4 separate regions of the Homo sapiens genome follow, and all the other regions are linked to region 1. The links come from fine-mapping of genetic effects on gene expression. A gene starts in region 1. Each other region holds a variant in brackets. All regions are shown on one strand. Distances are between the middles of the regions.

Evidence for each region. PIP is the estimated chance that this variant, and not a neighbour inherited with it, causes the effect. A credible set is the group of variants that fine-mapping cannot tell apart.
Region 2: its variant is the best candidate, but not a certain one, in a credible set for the expression of ADAM28 in blood mononuclear cells (TOPMed, PIP 0.59).
Region 3: its variant is the best candidate, but not a certain one, in a credible set for the expression of ADAM28 in blood mononuclear cells (TOPMed, PIP 0.90).
Region 4: its variant is the best candidate, but not a certain one, in a credible set for the expression of ADAM28 in monocytes (BLUEPRINT, PIP 0.54).

Annotation. Positions count from the first base shown.
Region 1 is chr8:24,291,755-24,296,913 of GRCh38, forward strand. ADAM28 (ADAM metallopeptidase domain 28) reads left to right here and starts at 2,315. Exons shown (of 23, transcript NM_014265.6): 1 at 2,315-2,441. The coding sequence starts at 2,396. It overlaps ADAM7-AS1 (ADAM7, ADAMDEC1 and ADAM28 antisense RNA 1), which reads right to left. Exons shown (of 6, transcript NR_125808.1): 5 at 4,400-4,496; 6 at 4,060-4,303.
Region 2 is chr8:24,365,097-24,370,255 of GRCh38, forward strand. All of the region lies in intron 3 of ADAM7-AS1 (ADAM7, ADAMDEC1 and ADAM28 antisense RNA 1), which reads right to left. Among named protein-coding and RNA genes, the nearest start is that of ADAMDEC1, 17 kb to the right of the region's middle. The variant T/A (reference allele first, on the strand shown) is at 2,868.
Region 3 is chr8:24,346,630-24,351,788 of GRCh38, forward strand. It overlaps ADAM28 (ADAM metallopeptidase domain 28), which reads left to right. Exons shown (of 23, transcript NM_014265.6): 19 at 3,235-3,343; 20 at 4,603-4,681. The region is part of intron 3 of ADAM7-AS1 (ADAM7, ADAMDEC1 and ADAM28 antisense RNA 1); the gene reads right to left. Among named protein-coding and RNA genes, the nearest start is that of ADAMDEC1, 35 kb to the right of the region's middle. The variant G/A (reference allele first, on the strand shown) is at 2,284.
Region 4 is chr8:24,379,085-24,384,243 of GRCh38, forward strand. All of the region lies in intron 3 of ADAM7-AS1 (ADAM7, ADAMDEC1 and ADAM28 antisense RNA 1), which reads right to left. Among named protein-coding and RNA genes, the nearest start is that of ADAMDEC1, 2.6 kb to the right of the region's middle. The variant C/T (reference allele first, on the strand shown) is at 2,242.

The DNA.
Region 1 (5,159 bases):
TGCCACCAGGATGCACTCCCTGCCCTGTTTGGTGTAGACCTCTGACTTCTATTGATAAATCTATTGTAACACTAAACACCTTGTGATATTGTGATCATTTATAGGTGGTACTCACTCTGTGCAATTTTATGGTAATTGAACTTATCTTTGTCAGATTGTGAACATCTCAATGAAAGTGATTGTGTTTTTTGTTTGTTTGTTTGTTTGAGACACTGTCTCGCTCTGTTGCCCAGGCTGGAGTGTGTTGTTGCAATCTCAGCTCGCTGCAGCCTCTGCCTCCTGGGTTCAAGCAATCAAGCAGTTCTCCTACCTCAGCCTCCTGAGTAACTGGGATTACAGGTGACCACCACCACACCCAGCTAATTTTTTTTTTTTAGTAGAGATGGGGTTTCACCATGTTGGGCAGGCTGGTCTCAAATTCTGATCTCAGGTAGTCTGTCTGCCTCAGCCTCCCAAAGTGCTGGGATTACAGACATGAGCCACCACTCCCGGCCATGATTGTGTTTTTTCAACTGCAATCTCAGTGTCTGACACATAATAGCTGTAAGTAAAATTACGTTGAATTAATGGAGAAAAAATATGTAATAATTAAAAGTTGAAGTATCCTTTCTGTTCCCTGGAAAAGACAAAGCAATGGAACTTGGGTTGAAAAGGCAAGAAATCTGTGAATCGCAATCCTGATGGTTAAAATGCTCAGTAACTAGACTCAAAAATTCCTTTGTGGTTTTAGTTGATGACTGTATAATCATTTGGAGACATCAATAATCACTGTAATCCCTCTAGTATGAGAATGTGTTTCAGAATCTGTAAAATGATGCATGATTTTAGTGGACTAGGACTAGGTTTTGTGGTAATAACTGGTCCTCAGCGTAATTTCTATTCCTTAGGAATTTCATAATTATTTCTATTCTCCCAGAATCTTTTCAATAGAAATGATACTGGGAGTACAAGTCAGCTAAGCCAAGGGAAAGCATTAGAGTATATGACTAAGAGCCCAGACAACACATAGTTCAGATTCCACTTCTACCACTTACTGGATAGGTGACTTTATCTGCTTAATCTTCTTAATCTATACAATGAGGGGACAACTGATTCTTAATCTTTTGAATTTTGCCTTTAAAACCCCAAATTTTCACCTGCAAAATGATTGTAAATGCATAATACATGAGTATCATAAAGACTAATAAAATAACAAGTACAGTAGATTTAGGAGAGTACCTGTATTAGTCCATTTTCATACTATCACGAAGAAATATCTGAGACTGGGTAAATTAAAAAGAGGTTTCATGGCCTCACAGTTTCACATGGCTGGGGAGGCCTCACTCTCATGGTAGAAGGTGAAGGAGGAGCAAAGACACATCTTACATGGAGGCAGGCAAAGAGAGCCTGAGCAGGGGAACTGCCCTTTATAAAATCATTAGATCTTATGAGACTTATTCACTATAATGAGAACAGCATGGGAAAAGCCCGCCCCTTGATTCAATTATCTCCCACTGGGTCCCTCCCACAACACATGGGGATTATGGGAGCTACAATTCAAGATGAGATTCAGGTAGGGACACAACCAAACCCTATCAGTACCTAAAACTTAATAAGCAGCTCAGTTGATATTAGTTATTTTATTGGTTATAAGTATGATTTTTAGACATGCCCAGTTTAGCCTTACTACCACCAGTGACAGATCCTAAAATTGTATCCTTTGGGTCTTGAATCCTTCTTCCACACTCCTCATTGCCAGTTATGACACAAATACCCCCAAGGATCTAAAAATTATTGTGCTTATATTGTCAGACATTCTTATTTCAGGATAGTTCAAACTTCCTGAGAGTACACTTGTGTGAGGAATAGAACATAAAATAATGGAAAAGAGAATGCTATATAGTAATTAGGTTGAATTAGAAATTGCTTTACATAACCACATTATGTATGTGGGGGAAAAATAACATTCTTAATAACTTTTTTCCTACAACTGTATATATATAAAAATATATTTAAACATATATTTATATATCATATCCGTAATGTAAATAAATGTCTAGCATGTTTTTCAAGACTCATTAATGCAGTTGCCTCTTTCCTTGTAGCTTATCTGGCTATAGTAATATGTTGGAAATGTACTACTTTGGAGTGGGGAGTATGGCAAAGGAGAGCAAAACAATAGTTCAGATCAAGTAATCTTAGAGCCAGGAGGCAGCCAGGACTTCCGCCTGCTGGGCCATTGTTGCAGGACCACAGCTTCGAGGTTGCGCAACACCTTTAGTAAACACTTCCTGAATCAGAGACAAGAATGAACCAGGGAGTTTCATTCTGTCTCACTGGAGAGGAGGCAGGGACAGACCCAGCAGCACCCACCTGAGCGAGAAGAGCAGACACCGTGCTCCTGGAATCACCCAGCATGTTGCAAGGTCTCCTGCCAGTCAGTCTCCTCCTCTCTGTTGCAGGTACATATTTAGCTCTTTTTCAGGTTCTATTGAATGCATTAGCGAACTTTTCATAGTCTCCTAATAGTTTTATTGTATAAACTATTTTGACTTTTTTCTTTTTCTTTTTTCTCAATCAATCTTACTAACCAGTTGGGCTGGTTTTAACCTGTTGTTTGGGGGCTGCGAGTGATACAAAGACAATGTTAAAAAGAGGCAACAAGAGGTCTTGAACCAATATGTATGCATCTCATCTGAGAATATACAGAAATAAAAGGGACAATTTCATACAGCACAATTTAAATCATGAATATGATTTTTGACTGAAAAAGTGGAATTCATCAAAACCCAGCTTGTCATTTAAAGAATGGTAAAGATGTGGCAGATTTATTTATTTATTACTGTGTACAAGGCTTAGGAAAATACCTACTATTATTATGGGAGCCAGTTTGGCTCTTTCTGTTTGAGTGTATATTTTTGTATTTACTCATTATTAGTAATAATACGTGTGACTAACTGGAAATAATTAATATTTTTTATTTATAAGGTACTGTGATATTACTTAACAAAATATCTCTGTTAAGCTTAAATTGATAATTTACTTCTATTTTGCTGATTATACCAAACATTTAAAAATTTGAAAGGAGAAAAATACTACTTCCTAACAGGAAATTATGTCTAGCAAGTCTCTCAATTTCTGGTAAATTCTCTAATTAGACTTTGGTTAAATTAGATTGGGTATTGTGATTCTTCAGCTTCTATTTCCAGAGCTTATTTAACTCAGCACATGAACTGCAGTGCCTCGAATTCCTCCCAGTAAACCTGTTCTTGGGTCTTAGAATGTTTGCTGGGACCTGGGGATGGGAACAGATTATCAACTAGAGGTATGGGCTTAGGGAGGGAAAAGTTTTCCTTGTCCATGCACCCTCTTAGTACTTTGTTGCTAAAAATGATTTTCCTGTGTCTCACCTGTTTCTGATTTGTTTTCAAGACTTATAAAAATTTCACTTAACCTAATATCTTTAAATATCGAATTATTTTCCTTTTGTTTCTGTGTATTTTTGCTTTATATAATATGTACCTATATCTGAACTGAACCTTTTCCCACTGTGCTGTGATCCTCTTCATCTCTAATGCCTTTTGCTTTGATACCTATTTTGTCTGATGTGAACGTGTTACACCAGCTTTCTTTTGGTAAAATAAGCCTGAAATATTAAAAATATATATAAAACTCATGCCAGGCATTTAACATTGACCTGAAATTCCTACTTTTTGAGGCAGACTTAATAGAAATGTTTTTTTCTCTCCGTTCTCCAAAAATGCTATCACCAAGAGCTTTTCCAGAACCCCCTCTAAGCTGAAATACAAGAACTGCTTGGGCACTAGCTTAGTTGAAGAGCGTAAAGATCAAGCTGGATCCATTAACAGAGTCACATGGCTAACACTGGGGCCCATGCACATTACAGTCCTTTTGTGCAACTGGGCACACTAATCAGTTCTGCTGCCCCGACGGTGCATGTATAACATGGCACCAAGAGATGCAACTTCCTCTGATGTCAACTCTAAAAGTGTGATGTCACCCCTCCTTTAACTTCTAGCTTCTATTTTTAAGGGTGTCTTTTTGCCACTGAACTATCCCTGTTATGATTCCCATTTGGGTTGCCTTTCTAGTCAGAATATAAGAAGTAAAGCAATTTTCATTTCCCAGTTCTTCCTGTTTGTTCTCTGCCCCCATCATCAAAGCAATACATATGTGCCCCTCTGACCATGACTTCTGCCCAGTCCCCAGATGGTTGAAATAAAAGAAAGAGATGTAAAATAAGGCTGGTTGTGTGCAGTGAACTTCACAATCCCGAGAAAAAATTGACTTATGGGATTTCATCCTAGGAAAAGGAAAAACAAATATTTAAAAGGATGTGACAGGTGTTTGCGGGGTGAAGATGTAAATGATTGCATCAACAAAGGAGAAAGGTGCTTACCTTATTACAGCAGAATACTCAGGGGGTACAGCACTTTTTGAAATTATTTTATTTCAAACTACCAGTTCTTCCTTGCCTTTATAAGGTAACTGGAAGACTGAAAAGAAAATATACAGTTTAATCTAAATAGTCAAAATAACAGACCTAATAGAAATGCAGTTTTTTCCCTTTTGTTTGTACTCACTTTTAATGCATGAAGTTTAAAACCACAAGATGGTTTGAGGAGATGCAGAGAATCCCAGGACATAAGTCAATATCCTTGTGTAAACCCTAATTCAGCGTTTAATATGATGTGTTCAGTTTGGAAAGAAGACATTTCTTTGAACAGTTTCAAACACATTTGAACGAAAATGAAAATGTCAATATTACATACTCATGTTCCCATTTCCAAAATGACCCCAAACACATGAACAAATAATGTAGCAATCCAGACTAATGTCTCTCATATTAACGTTGTTAATGAGCTTTGGCTTTTCTAAGACTCAAAACAGTCAAAAATAATTATCCCATCTAAACCAAAATAACAGTTTTCTTTTTCCTGATCTGGTTTTGCTAGTCAAGACTAATCCAGTGTGTGAGTTCTGTGGGAGAGAGAAGGCAAGTATTAAAATGAATTAGTAAAAACATATTGTGTTACACCTTGGATTTGTGTAATCCCTGGATGGCAGTTAGTTGTGTTTGTTCCTCAGGCTTCAAAAATAATTAACGTGATGTTATTCAGTGGGGAAGACGCTGCACCATTTCCATTAAACTTAAGGAT
Region 2 (5,159 bases), 73 kb after region 1:
TAAAATACTGTCCTAGATCTGAGGCTGCATTGTGCAAAGACCCTGGATTCATATTTTGGGGAAATTAACATGGACTGAATTCATACAATTTTTAGAAAATAAAGTCATAGCCAATTTCAAATTTGATTATTTCTTAAAGTAAGGATATCATAAGGTAATAACAAAAGTACACAGTAGCACATTCTGATTTATGCAAGTTTGTGTGTATTTTTGTGTGTTCGTATGTGTGCATGTATAATTTCACTTAACATTTATGACAGTCTTGCACAGGAATCTTACTTCCTTTCACACAACCACACTGTCTGCAGCAAAACTATTTTGCACTGAGAAGCACATTTAATACTATATTATTAAATATGAGAATTCTATTTTATCTCCAGCAACAAATTCTTCTAGGCAATGTTTCCAGTGAAAGTGTATCTGAAGTTGCAGTCAAATCTTTTTTTAATTTTTTCATTTCCAACTTTTATTTTAACTTCAGAGGTACATGTGCAGGATGTGCAGGTTTGTTACATAGGTAAGTAAACAGGTGCCATGGTGGTTTGCTGCAGATCATTCCATCACCCAGGTATTAAGATCAACATCCATCAGCAATTCTTTCTGATCTTCTCCTCCTCCCAACCCCCTCTGACAGGCCCTAGTGTTTGCTGTTCCCCTGCATATGTCCATTTGTTCTCATCATTTAGCTCCCACATATAAGTGAGAACATGTCATATTTGGTTTTCTGTTTCTGTGTTAGTTTGCTTAAGATAATGTGCTCCAGTTCCATCCATGTCACTGCAAAAGACATGATCTCATTTCTTTTTATGGCTGCATAGTATTCCATGTTGCTTATATACCACATTTTCTTTATCCAGTCCATCACTGATGGGCATTTAGGTTGATTCCATGTCTTTGCTATTGTGAATGGTGCTGCAATGCAGACAGTGGATGTGTCTTTTTAACAGAACAATTTCTATTCCTTTGGTTATGTACTTAGTAATGGGATTGCTGGGTCAAAAGGTATTTCTGCCTCTAGGTCTTTGAGCAATCGCCACACCCTCTCTTACAACAGTTGTACTAATTTATACTCCCACCAATAATGTAAAAGCATTCCTTTTTCTCCACAGCTTTGCCATCATCCATTGTTGACTTTTTAGTAATAGCCATTCTGCTGCAGTCAAATCTTATGCCCCTTGATTTTCTACTCCTGAAAATCCGTTCTCATTTTTCCCCATTCTTGTTACTAGTGATTAGCAGAGAGCCTGGGAAATGGTAAGCACTCAATAAATCAACTAACAAAAGTCTTCCACCAAGATTCTGAGCTTAATACATTGTGTAATTTACACTTATCTGGTTGTTTTCTGTAATTCTGCAATACAAACATTTACAAAGTCTCCATTTACTAAGTGGACACTGGAGCTAGAAGGATTAACCTCTTTCCCTGCCGTCCAGGGATTCTCATCCTAGCTCTAGAGACTGACATAAATATAGAAATAAATAATCACTAAAATAAATTGCTAAACTATGAGAACAAGAAAGTACAGAGGAAATGTTTATCAAGAGAAGGCATGAGAAGTTTCTCAGAGGAGGTGCCGTTTAAATCTTGAACTCTAGGCAATTTATCAGATCTATAAAGGAAAAAGAGAAAAAAAAGTCTTCTAGAAAATAACGGAGTTAAATAATAGCCTTGCTAAGTCATGAATCCACAAGGGCCATGACATGTTCAGGGAACTGCAAGCAGATCATCAAGACTATGGAAAACCAAAAATTGTTATTTTTGAATACGTTTAGGTATTTATATATACCATGTTTCATCAAAGATACATACATATTTGTGCATACACAAACTTAGGAGATTTAGAAAAGTATAACACCCCCCAAAAATGAACATTTAAGAAAATCAGAAAGCAAGAAAGTTCTAGAAACCATAAAGCCATGGGTCAGATGAGACTTGTGAAATTTAAAATATACGGCCCTACGTGTTTGATAAATATGAGCTCCAAACTGTACTCCAAACTATCTAAGAATAAAAAAGTAAACAAGAAAAGTAAACAGGATTTATATGAGACTCACAGTGTCTATAAAGAACAAACATACCATCATGGAAGACAGCAAAACCACATAAACACAACAAAATCAGCCAAGTGAATAAAAATTAATGGTTAAGACTGAGCTGTACATACCATCATGGGAGACAGCAAAACCACATAAACACAACAAAATCAGCCTAGTGAATAAAAATAAAAAAGACTGAGCACAGCTCTTTTTGCTTCTGAGACCTAAAATTTGTACTCAGGATGGTGTTGCTGTTGTATCCAACTAGAGAACCTGTCTGTACCTTTTGCTTGATTCCCCACCCTGGGAGCCCCTCAGTACTTCATGGCTACAGACTCTTGGCTGCCTGCCCTAACCACACTGCAGTCACACACACAGTCATAAATAAACCCCAGCAGGAAGCGAGACATAGGCTCAAATTAGAACACCCTCTCAACCTTTTCATCAATAACTTTCAGCACTGCTCAGGGTAATGGAAAAATTGTTTCTAACTGAGCTGCATATCATGAGTTTGGAAGCCAAGTAATAGCTTGCCTATTCATATCATCACTGAACAAGTTATTTCACCTACTTTTAGAATACTTGAAATACTTTTTTAATATAGATCATAGCATCTTTAAATTTTCCTTCGAGGGAATTCAGTATCTGAAAACACAGTGGCTTTAGTGACATTGGTTACAGTTTTATCACTGCCTAATCATTAATTATAATTTTTAAAGGTTCTCAGTTGATTATTTGAGGAACTGTATTTTCCTTACAGAATAATTCCTAGGTATATTGGATGATCTTTTCCGGTGACTAAAGTATATGTAGGGTGTTTGTTACAATAT[T/A]TGTTCTCTTATCCTTTAATTATTTTGTTTGTAATCAATCCAGCATGGAGTAAAAGAAATAAGAGTAAAGTAATATGTATATTTTTTATTTTCTAAAAATATTGAAAGAGTTCTTCATGTAATAATGGTTCTTGACAAAATGTATCAAGAACCATTTATACCAACCACTTTATACTAACAAAATCTGAACACAGAGGGAAGGAATCAAGATGTCAGTATTTTAATAAGTTCTAGAGATGAATCTAATGTATACTCTTGATTAAGAAACAAAGATTTAATGGAAATATCTCGGCTCTAGTTGGCTACCAACATCTTATGCCTACTATTATCTTAAGAGATTAATTGTATGCTGTAAGTATTGATCTTGATTATTCATGCAAATTAGTATCCGAAATAGCAAAAGTAATTTGATTATAAAAAATTCAAATTCAAAAATATATGTTTGTAATGTCAACTGTTTATCCAAAGAATTTTCAAATTCTAAACATAGGATATTTAACTGGTGGTACTGCTAAAGCCTCTGACTTTACCTGGAATAAAATTATTATGTTTTGTTTTTATTACAGTAGTTTTTGGGGAACAGGTGATGTTTCATTACATGGATAAGTTCTTCAGTGGTAATTTCTGAGATTTTGATGCACCTGTCACATGAGCAGTGTACACTGTACCCAATATGTTGTCTTATCCCTCACTCCCCTCCTAACCTCCTCCAAGTTCCCCAAGTCCCTTATATCATTCTTATGCCTTTGCATCCTCACAGCTTAGCTCCCACTTAGAAGAGCCTAGGATATTTGGTTTTTCCATTTCTGGGTGACTTCACTTAGAATAATGGCCTCCAGCTCCATCCAAGTTGCTTTAAAAGACATTATTCCTTTTTATGGTGGAGTGGTGTTCCATGGTGTACATACATCACATTTTCTTTATCCACTCATTGGTTGATAGGCATTTAGGTTGGTTCTTTATCTTTGCAATTGTGAGTTGTGTTGCTATAAACATATAAACATGCACATGCACATGTACTTGTGCCTTCTTCACAAAATGACTTCATTTCCTTTGGGTAGATAGCCAGTAGTGGGATTGCCGGATCCAGTGGTAGTTCTACAAAGTAAAATGTTTAAAAAAGGCAAATAATCTTGAAAAGATCAGCTTGTAAATAATGAGTAAAAGAAAATATTCAGACTTGAGATTATGATTTCTCTCCTGGTGGTTGCTGAAAAACTTTATATAAAAATATCAAGCATAAATAAGAAAATATTCATGACTATAGCAGAATCCAAAGCATTTTGGGAAACTCATAATAGGTGCAGCACTCTGTTCTTTCATTCATTAGAGGTTCATGCCTATGACCATGCACAAAAGACATGGCTTTTTAAAAATAGGCTATATTTTAGAGCAGTTTTAGGTACTTAGAAAAAAATTGAGCAGAAAGCAGAGATTCTTCCCTGCTCCCACACACAGCTTCCCCCACTATCAACATCTCATACCAGGATGATATACTTGATCATTGATGACTCTCCTTTGTTCCATTATTTTCATCCAATGCCCATAGTTTAAATTAGGGTTTATTCCTGGTGTATCTTCTCTTCTATGGGTTTTGACAAGTGTATGACGACATGTATCCACCATTATAGTATCATACAGAATAGTTTTACTGCCTTAAAATTCTCTTTTCTCTGCCTATTCATCCCTCCCTCCTCCCTAACTCCTGGCAGCCATTGTTCCTTTTACTATTAATAGTTTTGCTTCTTTCAGAATAGCATTATCATTGGAATCAAACAGTACATAACCTTTCAGATTGACTTCTTTCACTTAGCAATATTCATTTAAAGTTTCTCCATGTCTTTTCAAGCAACATAACTCATGTCTTTTTAGGGCAGAATAAAATTCCAATGTTTGGATGTCCCTGAGAGTAGCAGAATGTACCACTTCAAACGATGCCACTTTGACATAGGATGACTTCAAACTGAAGTCATTTGAATTACAGCAGGTGCAAGAAGGGGGCATTCCAATCATCCACCTTTCTTCCTGAAAACAGGAGATTAAAACTCCCATGTGAATGATTTTATCCTTGTATCAGTAGAAAGGAAACATTCTTCAATGCGGAGTCACAGCTGGGAGGATTCTGTAAAACCAGACCTTGTTAAAATAATGACCTTCCTTTGGCCTCCCCATATAATGTAGTTACTTTCCACAATTGCTTCTCTTTGTTCAATGTAATAAAGCATGGAGGCTTTGCCACTCTTTGGGTCTTGGTTCCCTGGGAGCTTTATGCGGCTCCCATGCCACATAAAA
Region 3 (5,159 bases), 55 kb after region 1:
TAACACCATCTTTTTGTGTGTAACATAATAGAGCAGACATGTAAATATAAAGGCAAACCTGATGATTACAAAATGAACGCTCATGTAATATAATAAGGGCCAAGAAATAGACCCAGACATCTGCTTTCCTGCCTCTTTTCAGTCTGATCTCCCCTCTTTCTCTAAGGGTTGACCATTAATCTTTCTTTTGTCATAATCATTTTGTTAGTTTTCTTTGTAGTTTTGCTTCCTAAATACACATCCTTAAACAGCAGCTTTTGGTTATATAATTCCATGTGTATAAAGTTTTTAAACACAGGAAACACAGCTTCCCTCACTATCAACACTGTCACCAGAGACATACATTTGTTACATCCATGAACATACCCGGACACATCATTATCACCAAGAGTCTTTAAAGTTTGTATGTATGAAATTTTTCTATGCTCATTTTCTTCTTTTTCTCTACCTTATGCTTTCAAGATCATCCATTCTAGTGATTGGATTAAGGTCCACTAGTTCTCTTTCAAGTTTCTAAGAATTCTGTCAAATACTTCCTTATTTATTAAAATGTTTTCCCCTTTACTCTATTAGTACTGTCAAATAAGTCAATTGGTTTGTGAACATTTATCTAACTTTGCAACCTTTGAATAAACCTAAGTTAGAAATAATATCTTTTTTATATAGTGAAGGATGTTTACTCTTATTTTATACTCTTGGGTGATATTGGACTGTGATTTTTTCATATTGAAAAAATTGCTGAATTTTGGTATCAAGGTTATGCTAGTCGCATAAAGTGTATTGGAGAGTATTCATTTATATTCTCCGGAAGAATTTGTATTTTTTGGCTATTTTATATTCATGGGTGATATTGGACTGTGATTTTTTCATATACGTGTTCTGTAGTATTCTCCAGATATTTTGTTTATCAAGTTTATTAATTGTCTGATATATAAATTAAGCCTAACATTGTTTATTTGTTCTACCAATTACTGTGCTGGGAGTGTTAAAATACCCCCCACTGTAATTGTGAATTTGATTACTACTTCTGGCTCTATCAATACTTTTATACTTTGAGAGCGTATTATTATATACATACAAGTTTAGAGTGTTGCTTCTTCCAAATTAATGAACAGTGTATCATGATGAAATGGTGCTGTGTCTATCTAGTACACTTCTTACCTTTGAGAATATACACTTCCTGGAGACCATATAGCTGTAACGTATTTGTTTTGGTCTGTATTTGCCCTGAAATAACATTTTTCCATATTTTCATTTTTATCCTTTCTGAATCACGTTTTAAGTCTTTTTTTCTTTTATTAAAGAAAGCATGCACATATAGTTTTTAGTAGTACTCACATCTTTGGTTTTTGTTTGTTTCTTTAACTGAGGAACTTAGTCCGTTTAAATTAAATGTAATTACTGATGTACTTGGGTATAAATCCACAATTATATAGTTTCTATTTGTCTTTCCTGTTTATGTTCCCTTTTCTCTCCTTTCTTACTTTCTTATAGACTTATTGATTTTATTATTTTATTAACTTGGATGTTATGCATTTCTTTTATATTTTAATGATTACCCTAAAACTTCCCAATTCATTTGCTTTTTTAAAAAAATAAACTTAACTTACTTTCTTTTGTAGAGCAGTTTTGGGTTCACAGCGAAATTGAAGAGAAAGAACAGACAGTTGACATATACCCAGCAACTCCCACTCCTGAACAGCTTCCCTCACCATCAACATCCCCCATTCTCGTGGAGTATTCGTTGATGGTAACAAATACTCCATAAACCTACATTAACACATCATTATCACCCCAAGCCCACAGTTTACATTAGGGTTTGCTGTTGGTTCATTTGCCTTTCATTTCTTTCTGCATTTCTGAACTTTTATCTAGGATTATTTTCTGTCTCTCCAGGTCCTTGCCCACTCACTAATCTCTACAAAGTAATTTTATCTAACATTTAAGTACTTTTATACTTTTAGGATGCTTTTGTTTGCTTGTTTGCAAAAAATTTAAAGATTAAAAGATTATTTTTAATGGGCAGGTTGATCTCAATTTCCTAGTCCACCATTACCAGAAACAAGAAGAGGCTGCACTTACTCTTCAGTGATTTCTATCTTCACCTGCAAACCTTCCGTTGTTATACTTCCATCTGTCCTGTGCCCCAATTTTAGCTCCAGACCATGTCTTTTCAAGTTTGGTGTGTTTGTGAAGTACTGCCAAATTCCCATTTATTTCTCTGATAATATGTCATTCTTCTGAAAATAGTTACAGTTCTGATATTAGTGCAAGTAAGTGTAT[G/A]TTTTTCATTCTGAATGTATCTACACTATAACAGAATGCTTCACTGTTTTATTTTCCTTTGACTTTTTGGATTGGAATCTTATGGAGGGTGGCGAGTAGCGAATATTTGAACTAAAGTCATTGTCTTACCTAGAATTCTGCTTCTGATGTGTCTACCTCTATCTGCATGTGTGTGTGTGCTCACACTTGTGAACTTTTCTTGCATTTATACAAATATTAATCATGCTATTGGTTTGCTGATTTCTGTAATAAGAGAACGGTAACTTTTGGCATTGCTTTTCAATCTTTTCCTTCCTGGTCTCTTGTGGTTTCAGATTATTGTAAGAGAAATGAACAGTTAAGAGCAAAAGAGTGAAGTTATATTCATTATTTAAATTTGTCAGTACAAGAAAAAACACCATGGAGGCCCAGGAATATTTGTTCAAACCATTTCCTCATTCTCAAGGTCACATAACTTCCTGTCTAATTCCAGTGTAGACCAACATCAGTGGAACACTCGATTATTTGTCTTCTTAGTCACACCTCAGCTTCTTATTCACTAATGACAGGAATGTATTTTCAAAGTTTTAGTTTCTTTTTCTCTGTTTTATTCCAAGACTGCTTTTCAAAAATGTTTCATTTCTTCTTTGCCATCTTCCTTACTGTATATTCTCTTCTAATCTCCCAGCTCATTTCCCAGTTGTTACAAACATTATCTAAGTATTCTCAATATTATGATTTTTAACTTATTTCATGTTAAATGTTTCCTATAGATTTCATGTGTATTTATTCTACCTAATATTAATATAATTATCCTGATCAAAATACTTTTTCATTTTACTGGCTATGGGAATTTATGTTCATTGGAGAAAAGGGTAGCTGGAATATGTGCTAAGTAAAGAAACAAGGACTAGTGTGTTGTGCAGATGTGTGTTTCTGCAGTCCTCAGCGGGCCCCTGTTCTCTGCTGCAGACTTCTCCATTGTGGTTGGGGTGCTGTTCCCAATGGCGGTCATTTTTGTGGTGGTTGCTATGGTAATCCGGCACCAGAGCTCCAGAGAAAAGCAGAAGAAAGATCAGAGGTGATCCTTTATCTTATCTTGCTGTAGGGACTCTTTGACCCCTATTTTACTTTACTTTAAATTCAATGTATAACCTATCCTTTCAAATTGAATTGGTTTACTTCTAATATTCAGAAATACATGCAGATGGTCTTTTTGGACGAGAAACTGGGTTTCCCTTTAACTGAGAAATCCTTCACATCTAGAAATGTTTTTTGTTTTTCCTTCTGTTAGTCACCGTAGTTATAATAATAAGAGTGATATTAACTCTCATTATGACAGATTTTTTGAATTTGTTGTAAGAATATAATATCTAACATTATTTGATCAATATACGATGAGCACTGTGCTAAGCACCGCCCCACCCACTTTTTTTTGAGACAAGAGTCTCCCTCTGTGGCCCAGGCTGGAGTGCGATGCTGCGATCTCGGCTCACTGCAACCTCCACACCTCCCAGTTTCAAGTACTTCTCCTACCTCAGCCCCGAGTATCTGGGATTACATGCACATACCACCACACCGGGTTATTTTTGTATTTTTAGTAGAGATGGGGTTTCACCATGTTGGCCAACCTGGTCTCAAACTCCTGACCTCAAATGATCCACCCACTTTGGCTTCCCTAAGTGCCGGGATTACAGGTGTGAGTCTCCACACCCGGCCGTGTGCTAAGCCCTTTTATATCTATTATCTTATTTACACTTCACAAGAACTTCATAAAGTGGTCATGAGTTTCATTTTACAGATGAGAAATGTTTTATGCTAACCCTTACACAATTTTGCAAGGTTAGGAACTTCACATTTTGATGGATATAGAAACAAGCTCAGAGAGATTATTAGCAAACATGCTTTCAGTCTTGCAGAGTAAGTGGTGGAGGCTGGGTTTGTCTCACGAACGTGATTCTGGCACAACGGTGTTTTTTTTTTTTTTTTTTTTTTTTTTAGCACTTTTAAAGAAAGACTTATTTACTCATGATGAGTTTTTTAATATTGAGTAAGACATTAATAAAACAACATAATTTAGATAAAATTTGGATTCAACACTATCATTTTTAGAAGTCAGGGGTTTTTGGAGAAAAAAGAAAACTAGTAGTGATTATGAATTACAAGGCAATGAAAGAGGCTGACGGGGAAGTAAAAACTGACCCAGGGAGCAGATAAAAACCCAGGCAATAGGCAAGAAAGACACAATGGGAAAAAGAAGTTGGGAATCTTCTACGGAGTTTCCCTGTCATGCTGAAGGAGCTGCTAAGTCAATTGATATCATGTGTTTCTCTCTTACAGGCCACTATCTACCACTGGCACCAGGCCACACAAACAGAAGAGGAAACCCCAGATGGTAAAGGCTGTTCAACCCCAAGAGGTGAACTATATAGTCTGGGCTGTGATTACCATGGCCCCACTTTGCGTTTCTCTCACACTCTTATCCTGACTACCTATCTATCATTTCTACCCAGCAGCGTTTTGCAGTAACACATTCAGAAATGTCTCCTTTGCCTTTTGTTAAAGGCAAAAGAGTCCCTAAAATGCCGAGGCTACTTTGCCGGGGTTCATGAAATGCAAACAGAATAAAGAGAACAAAGAATGCACATACCGGATGTCTGTCTGTCTCTCTCTTTGTCTCTGCTTCATTCTCTCTCCCTCTCTCACACACACACACTCCCTCTAGCTTATTTCTTTGCAAATTGACAAAATAGATACAAAAATATGTATGTCTGTATGATAATACATGTAATATTTATAACCCAAATGTCCTACTCATGTCCTGTAAATTTAAAGATTTTAGCTGAAGTTGGTTAATAACATTGGTAATCATTTATAACATTGGTAATCATTTTTTG
Region 4 (5,159 bases), 87 kb after region 1:
AAACACATTTGATGAAATTTGTCCACGTACTCTATTTTAAAAACTACAAACCATCAATGAGACAAATATTTAAAAAGACCTAAGCGAAGAAATACACGTGTTTATGCATCAGAATATCAATTATTACCAGTTTGGCTCAATGATTCAATGCAATCCCAATCAAAATCCTAGTAAGATCTTTATTGGGAACTGATAGGTTGAATCAAAATTGGTATCAAAATGTAGCAGACCCAGAAGAGCCAAAACAAACTTGTAAATAAGAACAATGGATTACATACACTACTTGTATTATATATTATACATTATATATTATGTAATATATAATATATGTAATTATATATTAAATATACATTATATATACAACCTATGTACACTATACAGATATATAATGTTAGAAGAAATGTGAGAATTGTAAAGGCAAAAAGATAATGTGTTATACACATTTTATATTATATATATGTATTTTTTTCTAGCTCATCAAGGTATCATTAATGCAAGATTTATTTCATTGATCTCCATAGCAAAAAGTATAATTTATGTGCATAAACTTGTATCTTTATTTGGGCTCTGAATATAACAATAAGTTTTTGCTATGTTACTTCAGTCTTAGCAATTATAATTTTAAGATAAAAATGTTCATAATTAGAAAAAACAGAAAAACTGGATGTACTGACATTATATGGGTCAGCAAAATTGGTAGGATCCAGACAAGATATTTAAACTTTTTTTTGTTTAAATATATTTTAAATAGGGTTGTAATGAACATAAAATGTTTGAATGCATGCAAGCCACTTAGAACAATGCATGGCTATATAATTGTTAGCTAATATTACTATTAACACAGCTTCATCCAGTAGGGATTCCTGGTGGGTTTGGACAAGCTCAGATTGGAAAAAATTATCTCATTAGATAATTCCAATATATTGATAGACCACCGAGGTAGGGAACATGATCCCTCCCCCAATGCCAGTCATAAGCAAATAGGGATTCCTGAGCATCAAAGGAGTTCAGAGCTTGGCCACCACTATGTTACTTCTCATCTCGAACCTCTGACTCTTACATTATCATATCCTTGAGACAGGCTTCTTCTTTGCAGCAGTTGAAGCCATCATAGAGATCTCCCACAGTAAAATATTTGAAATTCTTTATCAAGCACGTCTTTTCCCACCTTAATGACCTTGGAGACATCTATTACATACCTGGGTGATTTGAAGTATACTAGATCACCTAACCTCTTTGAGTCATCTATAAAATGGGAACCACAATCTTTGAACTGACTACTTGTATCTGTTGTTATTATGACCAAAGAAAATCATGTATGCAAAAGTCGTTACTTGTGCAAGACATTATCATAATTTTTGTCCATGTTACTGCTCTATTTTCATTTGTAGCTTGACAACATTTAAACATCCGCCCCAAATCAAAAATATGTTATTATGCAACATTCTAAAATGTTAAGTTGCAAGCTTTATGGGAATAAAATTCTTTGTAATCAGGATGTTGGTCGTGATTTCTTAGTTTTAGGATCATAAATTAAATCCTATGTTTAGTCAATCCTTAAATATTGTCTTCATAAGGCTCTGTATATATTCTATTTCTCATTCCCTCCAGATGCATTGGGTAAACAATTTCTTCACTGTTATTCCCACAGTTTTGATTTATAGGCTGATATTCAACTATCTAATAAACAGCATCTGTATCTTATGCAGAGTTTAGTTTTCAAATTTTTTATGGTATTCATATATTAAATGAATATTTTAAACATCTATTATCATCATGGTGCTGTGGTCCTGAAGGGTGCCCCAGGATATATAACTCCATTTTTAATGGATTAACAAACTGCAACTTCCATCAAGACACCAAATTGGAAGATTTATATAGTGGCTCAAGCTGAACCTTAGAACTCATTCTAGATTCCTCTGTGTCTTCCAACTGGGAGTGGCTACATACAATCAATCAGCAAGTCTGATAATTGTGTAAGCTAAGTATCTCTCAAATATGTACCTTCTTTAAGATCATTTGTTCCCCCATAACTTGGCCTCTGCATGTGTTATAAGTTTTATATCACATACCTATTACTTTTTTATTATAAAGTTCTGGGATACATGTTCAGAACGTGCAGTTTTGTTACATAGGTATACACATGCCATGGTGGTTTGCTGCATCCATCAACCCGTCACCTACATTAGGTATATCTCCTAATGCTATCCCTCCCCTAGCCCCCCACCCCCCAGCAGGCCC[C/T]GGTATGTGATGTTCCCCTCCTTGTGTCCATGTGTTCTCATTGTTCAACTCCCACTTATGAGTGAGAAAATGTGGTGTATGGTTTTCTGTTCTTTTGTTAGTTTGCTGAGAATGATGGTTTCCAGCTTCATCCATGTCCCTGCAAAGGACATGAACTCACCCTTTTTTATGGATGCATAGTATTCCATGGTGTATATGTGCCACATTTTCTTTATCCAGTCTATCACTAATGGGCATTTGGGTTGGTTCCTTTATGTTACGTTCAAGTCATGAGGAACATACACTTCAACAAACAGTATGATTTTCTATATACTCATGGTTTTGCTCATAGTACCAGCTCCACTATTCCTTTTCCAGGTATTATCTGATTCTCTCCACCTATCAAGTGATATGGCCTTTCTAAAATTGATTTCAGCACAATACACAAATATCAATCATAATACTTCATATTTGTACAGACTACCTGTTTGTGGTTGTGTCTCCATTATTAGACTTTATTGTGGGAATATGTGAATAGCAAGGACAGTATCAGTCAGCTTAGAATCCTTAGAAATGTAGTAGCAATTTATTAGAAACACAACTTTAATATGATTTCAATAAATATTCAACTGCCCTAGCAATACTAGTTGTATAATTAATAAGCAAATTAGTTCCCGCTAAATAGCCAGAAAGCAAAATTGTCCACAGCAATAATGGTCACCAAAAGATAGCCAAATCTCATCCAGTAGAGAAACTGCTGAATCAAGTGGTAGTTAGACTTTTAGCTCTTTATGGAATCTCCACACTGTTTTCCATAGTGGCTGTATTAGTTTCCATTCCAGCCAGCAGTGTAGAAGTGTTCCCTTTCACTGCATCCACACCAACATCATCTATGATTTTTTTATTTTTTATAATGGCCATTCTTATGTGAGTAAGGTGGTATTTCATTGTGTATTGCATGTTTATAGCAGCAAAATTTACAATTGCAAAAACGTGGAACCAGCCCAAATGCCCATCATTCAAAGAGTAGATAAAGAAACTGGTGTATATATGTATATACCACACACACATATATGATGTATACCATACATACATGCATATATACCATATATATGCACCACATATACACCATGTATTTGATGGAATACTACTCATTCATGAAAAGGAATGAATTAATGTCATTTGCAACAACCTGGATGGGATTGGAGACTATTATTCTAAGTGAGGTAACTCAGGAACAGAAAACTAAACACTGTATGTTCTCACTTATAAGTGGGAGCTAAGCTATGAGGATGTGAAGACATAAGAATGATACAATGGACTTTGGGGACTCAGGGGGAAAGGATGGGAAGCCAGTGAGGAATAAAAGACTACTAATTGGGTTCAGTGTATACTGCTCAGGTGACGGGTACACCAAAATCTCACAAATCACCACTAAAGAACTTACTCATGTAACCAAATACCACCTGTTCCCCAAAAACCTATAGAAATAATAAAAAAGAATATGTTTAATGAAGAATTAAAAAAAAAATAACTGATGCTAAAAGGACCTGCGAGCAAAGAAGGTGGTACACATGAATAATTTCAAACATCTGTAGAAAACACACACAAAAATAATGAGTAACATGGGGGTCAAAATCATGATAAACTAAAATACTTGACAACAACATGTAATGTGCTAAAGGGTAGGGCACTGATAAGAGTTCACCATTCCAGGATTCTTTTATTATTTGATGATAGAGACATAATTAGCATTATACTTTGTTAAAATATTAATGGCGGGTCATAAAGGATATAAGAAGGATGCCTATCTCTGGACCAGAAAAAGAAATGCAAAATTATAGAGAAAATGTTACTATTTTAAAGGAAGGTAGAACAGCAACAAAGTGAAGAATAGACATAGAGAGGGGATTTTTAAAGTTCCAATTAGATGTTAGGAAACTCCCAGATGTATCAGTGAAAAGTTAAGTTCAGCAGTTAGAAGGTATGGGTTTTTAGATTGGGAAAACTATACATAATGATTTAATTTGGCCCTAACTTTCTGAAAAGCACTGAGTCAATGTTTATCAATAATCTCAAGTTGATTTACCCTTTTTAGCTAAATAATAGCACTTCTAGACATTTATCCTGAAGTCACCAGAAATTCAATTAAAGAAATATACACAACCAAACATTACATGGACACTCAACACACACATATGTAGAAAATATGATATTCTAAAATCACTAAAATTATGTCTTAATATTCAATGTCATGAGAATGCTTATGTCATAGTGCCATGGAAAAAAAAATAAGTTTCTTAAACCCTTTGCCCAATAAGGTTAGCTTTCCTTTTCTGCATAAGAAGATGAAAATAAATTGTAAAAACGTTAACAGAAGTTATTTCTTGATGTCGGATCATTGGCAGTCAACTTTTTTCTCATAATAAACTTGTGATATTATAATCATGAAAATCTACCATATTTGTCAGAGAAACATTGTTATTGTATAAGGTAGAACTCAGAAAGTACACCTCGAACATACTTCATATGTTGTATAGTTCGGTTAAGGCCAGCACTGTCAAGGTTATTTAAATTTCTTGTACATTTCTTATACATGCACATTTCTTTACAATTTTACATGCATGTGCATATGTGTGTGTGCAAATGCATATGAATTTTATAAGAATCTTGAGGCAGTTAAAATTATCAGCATCCCCTGTTGACTCATTAGGAGACTGAATGTTAGAGAGATTTTCAGTATCTTGGTTTGTAGGACTTTACCTGGTGCTTTTTAGATTCTGTGTTCACTGTGACAGTATCTCAAAATATGTACAGAATACTGATATATGTCCTAAATATGTGGATTTATTTCTATAAGGATACTGAACAACAATCGTAATGGTCCAGTTTGGTGAGTATGTAGATATGCACGCGACCACCTCAGTCTCAGTTCACAC